Linked DNA regions of Homo sapiens: all the other regions are linked to region 1. Evidence: fine-mapped expression QTL. A gene starts in region 1. Each other region holds a variant in brackets. All regions are shown on one strand. Distances are from middle to middle. Region 1 holds the start of PFKFB3 (6-phosphofructo-2-kinase/fructose-2,6-biphosphatase 3). Region 2 has its middle 60 kb from the start of LINC02649. Region 3 has its middle 17 kb from the start of MIR3155B.

Evidence for each region. PIP is the estimated chance that this variant, and not a neighbour inherited with it, causes the effect.
Region 2: its variant is the best candidate, but not a certain one, in a credible set for the expression of PFKFB3 in whole blood (TOPMed, PIP 0.82).
Region 3: its variant is the best candidate, but not a certain one, in a credible set for the expression of PFKFB3 in whole blood (TOPMed, PIP 0.51).

Annotation. Positions count from the first base shown.
Region 1 is chr10:6,200,951-6,205,103 of GRCh38, reverse strand. It overlaps PFKFB3 (6-phosphofructo-2-kinase/fructose-2,6-biphosphatase 3), which reads right to left and starts at 2,172. Exons shown (of 15, transcript NM_004566.4): 1 at 1,768-2,172. The coding sequence starts at 1,843. It overlaps PFKFB3-AS1 (PFKFB3 antisense RNA 1), which reads left to right and starts at 2,347. Exons shown (of 2, transcript XR_007062045.1): 1 at 2,347-2,664. RefSeq lists enhancers at 201-703, 2,443-2,947, 3,502-4,018, 4,019-4,153, silencers at 1,020-1,099, 1,330-1,839, 1,960-2,069, 2,120-2,449, 3,480-3,699 and a cis regulatory region at 1,978-2,509.
Region 2 is chr10:6,264,623-6,268,775 of GRCh38, reverse strand. It overlaps a transcript of PFKFB3 not described here. Among named protein-coding and RNA genes, the nearest start is that of LINC02649, 60 kb to the left of the region's middle. The variant T/G (reference allele first, on the strand shown) is at 1,564.
Region 3 is chr10:6,167,416-6,171,568 of GRCh38, reverse strand. It overlaps a transcript of PFKFB3 not described here. Among named protein-coding and RNA genes, the nearest start is that of MIR3155B, 17 kb to the right of the region's middle. The variant A/T (reference allele first, on the strand shown) is at 2,445.

The DNA.
Region 1 (4,153 bases):
TTCCCACCCTCCAGCTCTGAATGATTCTGACAGGGATTCTTAGGCAAATCTCTCACTGCGTGTGAGACGTGCAGGTTGATGGGGTCTAATGGATCAGGATCCAAGCCTGGAGGGAGGACGCCTTGGTGCACGCTGGAGTTCTCAAGATCACAACTGAGCTGATGCCAACAGATCTCAGAGCCCTGGAAGTCACGGGACACTCCTCTCAGACCCGTGGGCATTCGTATACAATCACATGTATTTACATATGTGGGACTAGCCTCCAATGCAGTTTACAAAGTGCTATAGAGATAATACTTGCTTTATGCAAAAGTTGTTTCTGCATTTGGCCTTGGCCAAACCTCCCTGGGGATTTAAGAGCTGCATTCCACTCCACTTACAGGTTTTACACAAAGACAAGAGAACCATGGGCCACCCCAGTTCAAGCGCATCTGACTGGGCTGGGCAACACACCCACATCCCCCAGTCCTGGGCTACCTCACAAAGAGGGGGAACAAGACCTCTCCTGAGGGCTACCCCAGAACCCTGAAGTCCACCAGGGTGGATCTGCTGACGTCCCCACCCAGGGCACACCATGGGGGTGGGTGTGGGGAGAGGGGCAGGTCTGGACGAGGCCGGTGATTCAGACCGAGCAGGGCTCCAGGAGAGCTGCCAAGTCCCGCGGGGGCCGTCCTAAGAAACGTAGTAGCCGGGCAACCCTGCCTGCCAGCCGCCTGCGCTCAGGCGCCTTCGGATGACCCGAAGCCACCTCGAGAGTTTGCACCTGGATCCCACGGTCACTACTCAGGCTACGACCTGACCTGGGCAAAACCGCACCAGGCGGCTCCCTGTCCAGCCCATGGGAGCCGGGGCGCATTACCTGGAGAGGCAGCGTCGCCCCTCTGCGCTGCCCACCCGCCCTTTTCCGCGGCGGCGCTCCGCAGCTGAGGTGGAGCTCGAGGTAACCCTCTCCCAAGCGATCGCTGGTGGCGGGGGCGGCGACCGGCGGGGCGGGGCAGGGTACTGCCAGCCAATTCCGAGCACCGGGGGGTGCGTGCGCCCGGGGCGCGTGGAGCAGCGCCAACCGTGCACTCACCAACCCACCGACCCTCCCCAAAGCCGGGGACACAGGCGTGGCTCCAGGTGGCTCTCCTGGCGCCCCCAGCACGGGCGCCCCCATGGCACTGGAGATGCACGGAAGAGAGAGAAGGAGAGAGAAAGAGATAAAAGCAGAAAGAAACAGTGGGAGAGGAAGGAGGTAGAAACAGAGAAAAACAGAGACATATATATCGAAAGAGAAAACAGGACAGAGAAATAGGTTATTAAGTGAAGCGAGGGGATAGGAATGCATAGCAAGGCGGGAGAGGAGATGGAAACATGCAGAGAGAGGAGATCCGGACGGTGAAAAGGGGCGGAGGCGCGAGCGGCCGGGTCCCTGGGCTGCGCTCCGGCGACGGCCGCCCGAGACGGGTGTCGAGGACAGGGATCGCGGAGGATGTGGATCCCCTCCCTGGCCTGCCCAGGCGCGCGCGTCCCTCCGTCTCGGGGTACGCAGCCCGGCCGGGCGCACTCGCCGTTTCCGGGCCGGCGGGGCAGCCACCGGGACAAGGGCCACAGCGCCCCCGCCGCCCGGCCAAGGACGCGCAGCCCGCGCCTCCGCCCCGCCCCGCCGGCGCGACCCGCACGGGCGCGCCCCCCGCAGAGGGGCGTCGGCACAAAGCCGCCCCACACAATGGCCCGGCCCGGCGCAGCCCGCCCTGCAACCCGGCTCCGCGCAGCTGCACTCACATCTGGGCAACGAGGGCCTGTGGTCCACGGGCACCCAGATCTTCTGCACTCGGCTCTGCGTCAGTTCCAACGGCATCTTCGCGGCTGCGCCCGACGGCCCGCCTCCCGGGGCCGAGATCCCGACGCTGGCAGGAGAGCGGCCGCCGACCCCCGGAACAAAGGAGGAGAGGGGGGCGTGCGCCGGCGCGCGGCCGGGCGTTTCCTGCGCTGCCAGGGGAAACGTGCTTTGGGCTAAGTTCCGGACCCTCGCCTGTGCGGGGCTCGACGTGTGCTGCGAGGGTAGCGAGGCTGGGGATGCCCGGCACGGCCGGCTCGTCCGCTCGGAAAGCTCTGGGATGCTCGGGCGCAGTGACAGCCGCGCTCTCGCCACCAGGCCCTGCTGCTCGCCTCCTCTCCGGCTTGGCTGGGATGCCCCGCGCACCGCCGGCTTTTAAAGAGTCCGGGCTGGCCGCAGACGCGTACGTCAGCCTCGGGGCGGGCCGCATTCCTTGGGTCCCAGCCCCCTTCCACGTGGGGAGGAGGGTGGGCGAGCCGGGAAGCAGCCTGCGAGCTCCCCCTGCGGGCCGGCGACGGCGGTGCACCAGCTCCCGCCGCCCTGCCCCGGGCCTGGAGCGCGCCCAGCCCTGCTGAAGGGTCCTGGCTGCTGTTATCCCCTCGTCCCGTTGTCCCCTCGGGACGTCTGGCACAGCTTCCCCGACTAATTCCGGCCCCTCACCTCAACTGTGCTGGCCGGGAGGAGAGCAGAGACGCAGTCCTGCCCAGTGTAGACCGTGGACCCCGCAGCCGAATCCCTTGGGAAGCTGCTTAAAGTGCATCCTACCAATGCAGCTCCTTTAGGGCCATGGAGCCCCAATACTCTGCATTCCTAACACGCGCTGTGGGGCAGGCGCAGTCCAGGTAAGGACATGGGCCAGGCTGCTCCCTGATAATACCCGTGAGCCCATCCCCCGCCACGACCCGGGCGACCCGCGGGGAGGAGGCTTCCCTGATCCTCCCACCTCACCTCGTCCTTGTCCACTTTGCTGAATCCCTTAGAAACCTGGACTTGAACTGAGCCTTGCTCCCCTCCCCTAGCCCAAAGACTGGGAACCTTGAGAGGCCCGCGGTGCTGGGTACGAGGAGGGGGCGGGAAAGCCCCGGGGAGCTGGACTGAAGTGGACTGGGGCTGGGGGCAGCTGGCATCTGGTTTTCACACTCACCATGTACACCATTCAATAAACCTTTATCGCCCCGAGTAGAAGAATGAATAAAACTAGACCCATTTCGATCTGCAATTCATTACCTAAGTCGAGGGAAAACTATTGGGGGCGGCCCCTTATTAGGCAGACTCCTAAAATTCACTCCGTTATCCTGCACACCCTGCAGCTCTGCCTCCCCACTTTTTGGTGCATGCGTGCCCCGTCTCCTTTCCCGGCCCTCGCAGTTTGCACCAGCTCGCGACTTGTGACAGTCGTGCAGTCAGGTCAGAGGCGTGCGGGGAAGATCTGGGTTGCTTTTGGTGGGGAACCGCCGCCCGCGCCGGGACGGATGTAACTTTTGCAAACGAAGCCTCAGTACGGGAGCGCTGCGCCGCCTTGCAGAGAGGTGCACACTTAGCGCTGAGGCTGGGCTGTGATTGGAGGGAAGGCGGCGCTCGCTGAAACCTACACCGCGGCGGAAAAGTCTGCGCAGAGGCTGCCACACGTCGCTCACGTCCCGCATGCTCCACAGGGAGGGCGCCCGCGCCCAGGCGGCGACCGGGGCTGCTCCCGCCCCGCGCGCCCGCCCCACCCGGGCCTCCACTCCTCCCGACCCGCCGCCTGCCGAGGGGCCCCGGAACGCGCAACATCGGCCACCTGGCCTGTGCCCCGCCACCCTCCCCCACGCCTCGACCCCCACTCCCCCTCCCGCCTCGACCCCCACTCCGGCACCCCGCCCCCCGCGCCGCCCTCTCAGAGCCCCTGTTCCCGCGACAGCTTTGCTGACGGTCTGGTTTCCGCGCTCTGGCGGCTGTTCAGAAACCCGATGCGTTGCATTTGGACTTGTTTTCTGCAGTGGGAGCACATGCCAGAGGCGACACCCTAAACGCCCAGGGGAGAGTCCCACTCCACTCCTGAAATAAGAGTGGGCTGACCCGAAGAGGGAAACAGCAGGCAGCGAGCGCCCGCGCCACCGGGACGAGTTCCCGCCCTGGGGTTCGCGGGGGTCGGGGAGGGCTGTAGGCTGCGCGCGGGGAGAGCGGCTGCACCCCTGCAAAGAGCGCCCGCGGTTCCTGGGGAATGACGGTGCACCTGCGCGCCCGCTGCTTGCCCACCGATTTTGCACACGTACAGGCGAGGCAAGCGGACCAGGGGGCCTTCTTCCACACTCCCTACAAGCTTGCAAACACTGCTGGTTTCAGCTCACA
Region 2 (4,153 bases), 64 kb before region 1:
TGCTGGGATTATAGGCATGAGCCACATCACCCAGCCTCTTTAACCTCTTTATGTTTGAAATTTGTGAATGTATGATCCAGTACAAAAAAAAAAGTTAACTAGTCTTTTTTATTAAATATATTTATATAATTTCTATTTATTTATTTATTTGGAGACGGAGTATCATTCTGTCACCCAGGCTGGAGTGCAGTGGCACAATCTTGGCTCACTGCAACCTCCACCTCCTGCGTTCGAGTGATTCTCCTGCCTCAGCCTCCTGAGTAGCTGGGATTACAGGTGCACGCAAACATCCCTGGCTAATTTTTGTATTTTTAGTAGAGATGGGGTTTCTCCATGTTGGCCAAGCTGGTCTCAAACTCCTGACCTCAAGTGCTGGGATTACAGGCATGAGCCACCGTGCCTAGCCTTATATAATTTTTATAATAGTATAGAAAAGCACCCCCAAAAAGGTTCCTAGCATGAGGCATAATAGCAGCCACTTGAATTAAAAACCCTCTACGCAATCTCCAAAAAGAAGTTTATCAAGAAGTACAAATAAGACACACATGCTTTCAGCATTACTGGGATACAGAGTAACTTCAAATGATGCCAAGAATTCCACACCTAATCTCAACATAACCACCTTAGGGGCTCTGCCTGTGGCTTCCAGACCATGGAAGTGGCGTGGGGGAGGGGAGACAGGAAAATCCTTGAAAAGCAGCGGACATGAGAACTGCTCCGTCGCACAGGGCCCCATGCTCAGGACACTACACATGGTTTAACACTGTCATTGCCAGCTTGAAATTCTTAGTAATTTGATTTTTTTTTTTTTTTTTTTTTTTGAGATAGGGTCTCGCTCTGTCACCCAGGCTGGAGTGCAGTGGCACCATCTCGGCTCACTGCAACCTCTGCCTCCCGGGTTCAAGCGATTCTCCTGCTTCAGCCTCCCGAGTAGCTGGGACTACAGGCGCCCGCCACCATGCCTGGCTAATTTTTGTATTTTTAGTAGAGACGGGGTTTCACCATGTTGGCCAGGCTGGTCTCGAACTCCTGACTTCAGGTGATCCGCCCGCCTCGGCCTCCCAAAATGCTGAGATTACAGGCATGAGCCACTGCACCCGGCCAGTAATTTGATCTTTGAACTGATGTTTGAGAAGTGAAGCTTGCTGCCTTGATGGCTGGGAATTCAGCAAGTGAGTAGAAGGGGCTGAAAGGAAGCGTGCTATGTCTACAAGTGAGTAAGTAAGAACGCCAACAGCCCCGAGACACCGCACTTTCTGTTTGACCCAGAACTTGCCCTGACTGCAGAAAGAAGGCAATGACGTTCTAAGAAACTCTAACCACTAAGGAGCCTCATCCTGACCTCCTACTTCCCTGTATTAGCCAAGTACACATGCTGAAGTGAGGAAAGGGAAAGCCAGTGAAACCCACAGTTCCTTCTCCTTTCAGACCTTCCTCACTCATTAGTACGTACGTCCAGGGTAGCCAGCAATGGCAGAACATGAGCGTTATCAAGCGGTGAATAAAAGCAGTGAGTTTGTTTTGTACAATATCTCCATTGTTCTCATAAGAACAAGATACATA[T/G]GCCTATACAAGCTGGGAAATACCAGTTGTGTGATTGTGGTGAACCCACTTATGAGTTAAATGCGCTTATGTTTGCATGTAAAATTGTCACTGCACAATATAAGGACGAACTGTAGAACTCATGCTAATAACTTGTTTCTTTATTTTGAATAACATTAAATAGCAAATTTTAAAAAACAACATGACAAGAGAAAAAAGGTGAAAGATTTATAATTTAGCACCTCTAAATTCTGCTTTTTTCTTTCACATAGTCCCCAAATTCCGCAGACAATCTTGCGTTACGCTGTCAATGCTGTGAGCCAGCATTCTCCCTGTGAGCATAATGGAGGCAAGGCCTGCTTCGCACGCATGAGACCAAGGCCATCATGCGGGGCCCCAGGTTTGGCAGGGACCCCTTGCCCTTTATTTGGGTTAATGCTCTGCTGTTGCTGTTTTGAAATACTGAATAAATTTTGAAAACGGAGTCCTACATTTTACTTGGACTCTGCAAAATATGTGGACAGTCCTGGGTGAAAGAAGAACATTTGCATTGAATTAGAATTGGAGATCTCAATATGAATGTATATTTCCAATAATACAACCATATATAGATATAGATACACACACATACATATTATAGTTATTGTATGGTTTTATTTACGCATATGTGAACACACACACATATTTATCCCAACTCTGGCCACTGAAACACCCTAGAAGCAATGACACCCACTGGCAATAACACAACTACAACCAGATCTAGGACCGAGGGCTTGTTAGAGACATCGACAGTCTTAGAGCTGAGACAGGGAAGGCACAAGATGAGCCTGGAGTATTGTACAGGCCTAGAAATCAACGACGTCCTCAAAGCAGAAGAGGAGAGCATGCCGAAGGATACAGGAGCCAGCCTGAAGATGCTCCTATGACCCAAATCTGGGACAATTTGAGTGTCAAAATAAATAAGGACACTATGGATTATAACTCATTAAATATAATAGGAATCAATGAATCCATAAAATAAACAGTCTCAAGCTCAGTGGCTCATGCCTGTAATCCCAACAATTTGAGAGGCCGAGGCAGAAGGATCACTTGAGCCCAAGAGTTTGAGACCAGCCTGGGCAACATAGTAAGGCCTTGTCTCTACAAAAAAATTTAAAATAACCAGGCGTGGGGCACAAGCCTATAGACCTAGCTACTCAGGAGGCTAAGGCAGGAGGATTCCTTGAGCGCAGGAGGTCAAGGCTGCAGTGAGCTATGATCATGCCACTGCACTCCCACCTACGTAACAGAACTAGACCCAGTCTCTAAAAAATGATAATAATAAATAGAAAAACAAAAAAAAAAATGAAGGACAAGAGAAGTCTCCTCCTGACAGCAGAATCCTGAACAATAAACACAGAAGGAGGGGGTGGAGCTGGAAAATTATGTTTCTGCAATCATTATAGCAAAGATTGGTTGAGACAAGAATCATCAGTGAAAGCTAAACTTAAAAAGAAATTTGGATGAGGAGTAGGATGTCTTCGTGGCACCAGTGTTTCCCCATAGATTGCTTATTAGCTCCAAGGGAGAAAATAGTAAATATACGGTGGAAAAATTGAACAATACCTTGGGCAGGTGGTCAAAATAATTACCCGCAAGAGGCAGGTGGGGTGACAGGCCTTCATAGGTGATACCCCAAGAGACACAACATGACTTCCATAATATTCTAGCCAGGGATGTATAGCCTAAACATAATAGTGGAGAAACATGAGACAAAATCAAATTGAGAAACATTTGATAAAATAACTGGCTTGTATTCTTCAAAATTGTCAATATCATGAAAAACAAAAAGCTTAAGAAACTATACCAAATTAGGTGAGGGGCGGTGGCTCATGCCTGTAATCCCAGCACTTTGGGAGGTTGAGGCAGGCAGATCACATGAGGCCAGGAGTTTGAGACCAGCCTGGCCAACATGGTGAAACCCCGCCTCTACTAAAAATACAAAAATTAGCCGAGCATGGTGGCATGCACCTGTAGTCCCAGCTACTCGGGAGGCTGAGGCAGGAGAATCGCTTGAACCCGGGAGGTGGAGGTTGCAGTGAGCCGAGATGGCGCCACTGCACTCCAGCCTGGGTGACAGAGTTAGACTCCATCTCAAAAAAAAAAAAAAAATGAAAGAAAAAGAAACTATGCCAAGTTAAAGAAAACTAACACAAATTGACAACTAAATGCAGTAGGTGTCTCTGAATGAGACCGTGTACCTCCAGGGAAACAATGCTAGAAAGGACATCATTAAGATGATCGATGACTTGGAAGATAGACTACATTATATACAAGTATTCTATCAAGGTCAAATTTTCTGAATTTGGTAACTATACCATGGTTATATGAGAGACTCTCTTTGTTCTTACAAAACACACACTGAAATATAAAGGAGTAAAGGAGCCTGATTTATGCAATCTACTCTCAGATTATTAAGGAAAAGATGGAAAATAAAAATAACATACACGTATAGAGAGAATGAAAAAGAAAGAGGGAAACAGAATAAACAAGTGAATGTGGCAAAATGTTTTGTTAAATGTTGAAAAACATTTTGAGTAAAGGGAACAAGGGGTTTCTCTGTACTATTCTT
Region 3 (4,153 bases), 34 kb after region 1:
ATAAAATTAGCCGAGTGTGGCAGCACACGCCTATAGTCCCAGCTTCTTGGGAGGCTGAGCCGGGAGGATTCCTTGAGCCCAGGAGGTTGAGACTGCAGTGAGCCAAGATCGCGCCACTGCACTTCAACCCGAGCAACAGAACGAGACAGTCTCCAAAAAAAAAAAAAAGAAAGAAAGAACAATTTTAAAAGATGAGTTAAAAATAGAGAAGAAGGGCCGGGCCCGGTGGCTTACGTCTGTAATCCCAGCACTTTGGGAGGCTGAGGCGGGTGGATCACCTGAGGTCGGGAGTTCAAGACTAGCCTGACCAACATGGAGAAATCCCGTCTCTACTAAAAATACAAAATTAGCCAGGCGTGGTGGCATGGTGGTGCATGCCTGTAATCCCAGCTACTCGGGAGGCTGGGGCAGGAGAATCACTTGCACCCGGGAGACGGAGGTTGCGGTGAGCCAAGAACACGCCATTGCACCATTGCACCACTGCACTCCAGCCTGGGCAACAAGAGCGAAACTCCGTCTCATAAAAAAATAATAATAATAAAATAGAGAAGAAAGACTTTGTAATATTTCCTTCCTGCACGGAGTAATCCTTTTGCCCTAAGGAAGGGCCTGAGGGTATCCTGTCTTCCCAGCTGCTGGATTAGGCAGATTTCCCCTGGGGACCTGTCATCTTCCTCTTCCTGAGCTTTTCTTTTTTTTTTAACCTTTAATCTCTTTGGACTTTATCCTTGGGCTTTTCTGAAAGCACTTTCTGTCCAGCCCTTGCTGTCACCCAGCCAAACCTAGCTCCTCACAGCCCCCAGCAGCTTTCCTGCTCTGCTCAGCCACCGCCTCCACCTCCATACATTGTCTCCACCTCCATACCCTGTCCCCACCTCCATACTGTCCTCACCTCCACACTGTCCCCACCCTCTACTTTTGCTCCCTCTACTTTTGCTCCTGGTCTTTCCATTTGCACCTCAATGACCCCATGGATTTTTGTGGTTGAAAGTTTCTAGTCTGGTTTAAATATACTTTTTAAATTTTTTGTAGGAAGGAGGTCTATGTGGCCCAGGCCAGTCTCAAACTCCTGGCCTCAGGCAATCCTCCTTCCCAAAGTGCTGGGATTACAGGCATGCACCACTGCACCCTGCTGTAGTCCAGTTTATATTTTCGTCTTCTATATTTCATTTCTTAGAGGAACAAGAAAGAAAACATAAAGGAGGGGTGGGGGAACGAGTGAGTCTAGAAGGTGGGTTTCTTTAATGTTGAAGCAATTAGCGTTCTCTCTCGTTTCTAGATTACCAAACAATCCAAAAAGTTGCCCAGGATAAAGTGACTAGTCAAGCTATGGAGGCTTTAAATTGCTTCTAGACACACCATCACCTCTGTTTGGGGATTAAATATCTATTTCCAGAGTTCTGGTTAATGGTAAACAAGGTTCTTTTGCTTAAAAGGAAAACCATCGTCTTCATTAAAGAACCACGGGGTGGGCCCAGGCATGTCCTCCCACCCCCACTTCAAAATAACCACAAACAGAAGTCCCAGAAATTCAATGCAAAAGAGGGTCCCAAAATGTGACTAATTTAAGGGAACTGCAAATAGGCAAGAGGAAAAGTAAAGCCTTTCCAGAGAGCAAGGCCAGTGCACTCCCAATGTTTCAATCTTCTCAGTGTCCTAGACCCAGAACCAAAAGGAACCTGGGAAAGGTTTAAGGAAATACACATCCAAGACATAACAATGTTAGGGAAACATAAAACCGGGAGCCAGGCAGAAGCCAGTCCTTCCTCGGTGCTCAGACCCTCCTGGCCACTCCCATATATAGAGCTCAGGGCTGGGATTTCACCCTGGGACATAAACATTTAGAGAGTTCCAAATTCTGAGTGACTTTTAGATTCCACATGTTTGTAAGCCTCTAGAGAGCCCAGGATACATCACCGAATTCTTAAGCAGTACTGGACGCACTCTTCCTGTTCCTCAGCCACCCGCCTTCACCATCAGCGCAGCAAGTTCATACCCATCTTATCCCAGGAGAACCCTCAGGGCCTGGGGAACAGACACAATGGCCCAAGATCACAGTCAAATATCCTGGAGGAAGTGGGTCTACTCTGCATTTATGGGTGACGCCAGTCTCCTACCCACACCCCGACAACTCCATGGTGGCCCAGGTCTGAGCATTCGTGCCCCTTGCTCACTAAAATTAAGACCCCCTACCCTGCTCACAGCCGCCAGAGTCCCAATCACAATCCTCCCTGCGTAAGACTAAGAAAAGAACAGAAAATGTGCTCTCCCCCAGGTAGGTGCACCTGCCACCCAAGCAGATGCACTGTGACAAGAAAATATAAGAAGACTGGGCGCGGTGGCTCACGCCTGTAATCCCAGCACTTTGGGAGGCTGAGGCGGGGGGATCACTTGAGGTCAAGAGTTCGAGACCATCCTGGCCAACATGGCAAGACCCCGTCTCT[A/T]CTAAAAATACAAAAAATTTGCCGGGCGTGGTGGCACATGCCTGTAGCCCCAGCTACTTGGGAGGCTGAGGCAAGATAATTGCTTGAACCAGGGGGAGGTTGCAGTGACCAGTGCACTCCAGCCTGGGTGACAGAGCGAGACTCTGGCTCAAAAAGAGAAAGCATAAGGAGTGGGGACTTTTAGATAACTTTTCGGGGGGCAGACGGGAGAGGCATTCAACGAAGGACCACTTTAGGAGGTTGTCTGGGCAGATGGATTCCGTGAAGTGCTTTGAATGTAAGTCAGACCACTGGGGCTGCCTCGCTCCTGTCGCGCACATTCACCCACATCCATCCCCAGGCCTGAATGTAAGGGCTCAAACAGACCTGCAAATACACTCGGCACCTGCGAGTGGGCAGCTGCTGTGCAGACCACCCCATCCCATTTTCTGGTCCGTTAAACTCATGCATAATGGTCGTAGCAATGGCCAAGTTGTCATTGCTGGGCAGAAAGTTCCTTTAAGACAGGAATAATAAGGCCCACTTAGGAAGCACTCTGGATTGTAATAGGGTTTCCAGTGGCCACCAGCAGGGTGGCATCCTGATTTTCTACCAGGCCATGTAGAAGCCTTTTGTGCTTAGCTGCTCGTGTTAATCCTCACAACTGCATAAGGCTGACACATCAGGGAACTGAAGCACAGAGATGTTTGGGAAATTCTCCAAGGTCACACAGCTACTCAGTGGTGGAGGTGGCATCAGAACCCAGGAAGGCTGACTGAAGCCACCGTTCTGCCTCGCTCACTGGCATCCTCAGCCTCCAGCCTGAGGCAGGACATTCTAGGACAGCTGATGAATACAAGCATGGTCAGTGTGGGTGGCCAGGGCCCTCGCTCAGCAAGTGGGAGCAAAGTGGAGGATTCCAGGACTCACTACCTCATGATCTTCCACCAGCCTCCCACTACCTCTAGTCACCCCTACCTAAGCTGCCCCTCTGTATGAAAATGCTGGGGTTGGAGAGTGGGGCAGGCTAGGGAAAGAAGACAATGTGATTTAACCTGTCCCTAAATGGTTAGATAGCATCTCTGGAGTTAAAGATCTCAGCTATCAGTTAAAATGCAAACTGAGCTACTATCTGTCATTTAGAGATGACGCAGATGAAGAAGCTGAGGATGTGACCTAGAAAAAAGCAGGAACGACCTAGGGACTTAGCAAGGGACAAAGGACCAGAAACAGGCAAAGAGAAACAAAATTTAACCTTCTCTACAGTGTCGCTTAGGGCTGGGCTGGCTATCTCCATAGATATCCAATTCCTTAACACCTAAGGGCGTAGGAGAGGAATGAGACCAAGGTTTAGGATGAATAATCTAGGAAATCCCTTGAAAGGAAGAAAAGAGGATCATCAGAGACATCTTCTGGAGCTCCACAAACTGCTCAGAGCAGAGAGGCCACCAGATACGAATGCTGCCTCAGATAATCCAATGGAGGAAGAGGGTTTGGCTGGTATTTTCTGGCTGAGTTCTTGATAAGAAACTGTAATCACATCTGCTAGCTAGGGATCCAAGAAAAACAAGATATTGTCTCTTTATACACATTCCACAGCCCCTACCTTCTCTCAAGAGATGTTAAAATGGCTTAAAATGTGTTAAAATGTGACAATTTAATAAATGTGGCAGAAACAAAAAAGAGACTCCTAAAGTATTCCTCTCTTCAGAGAGTATGAAGCTATTAAT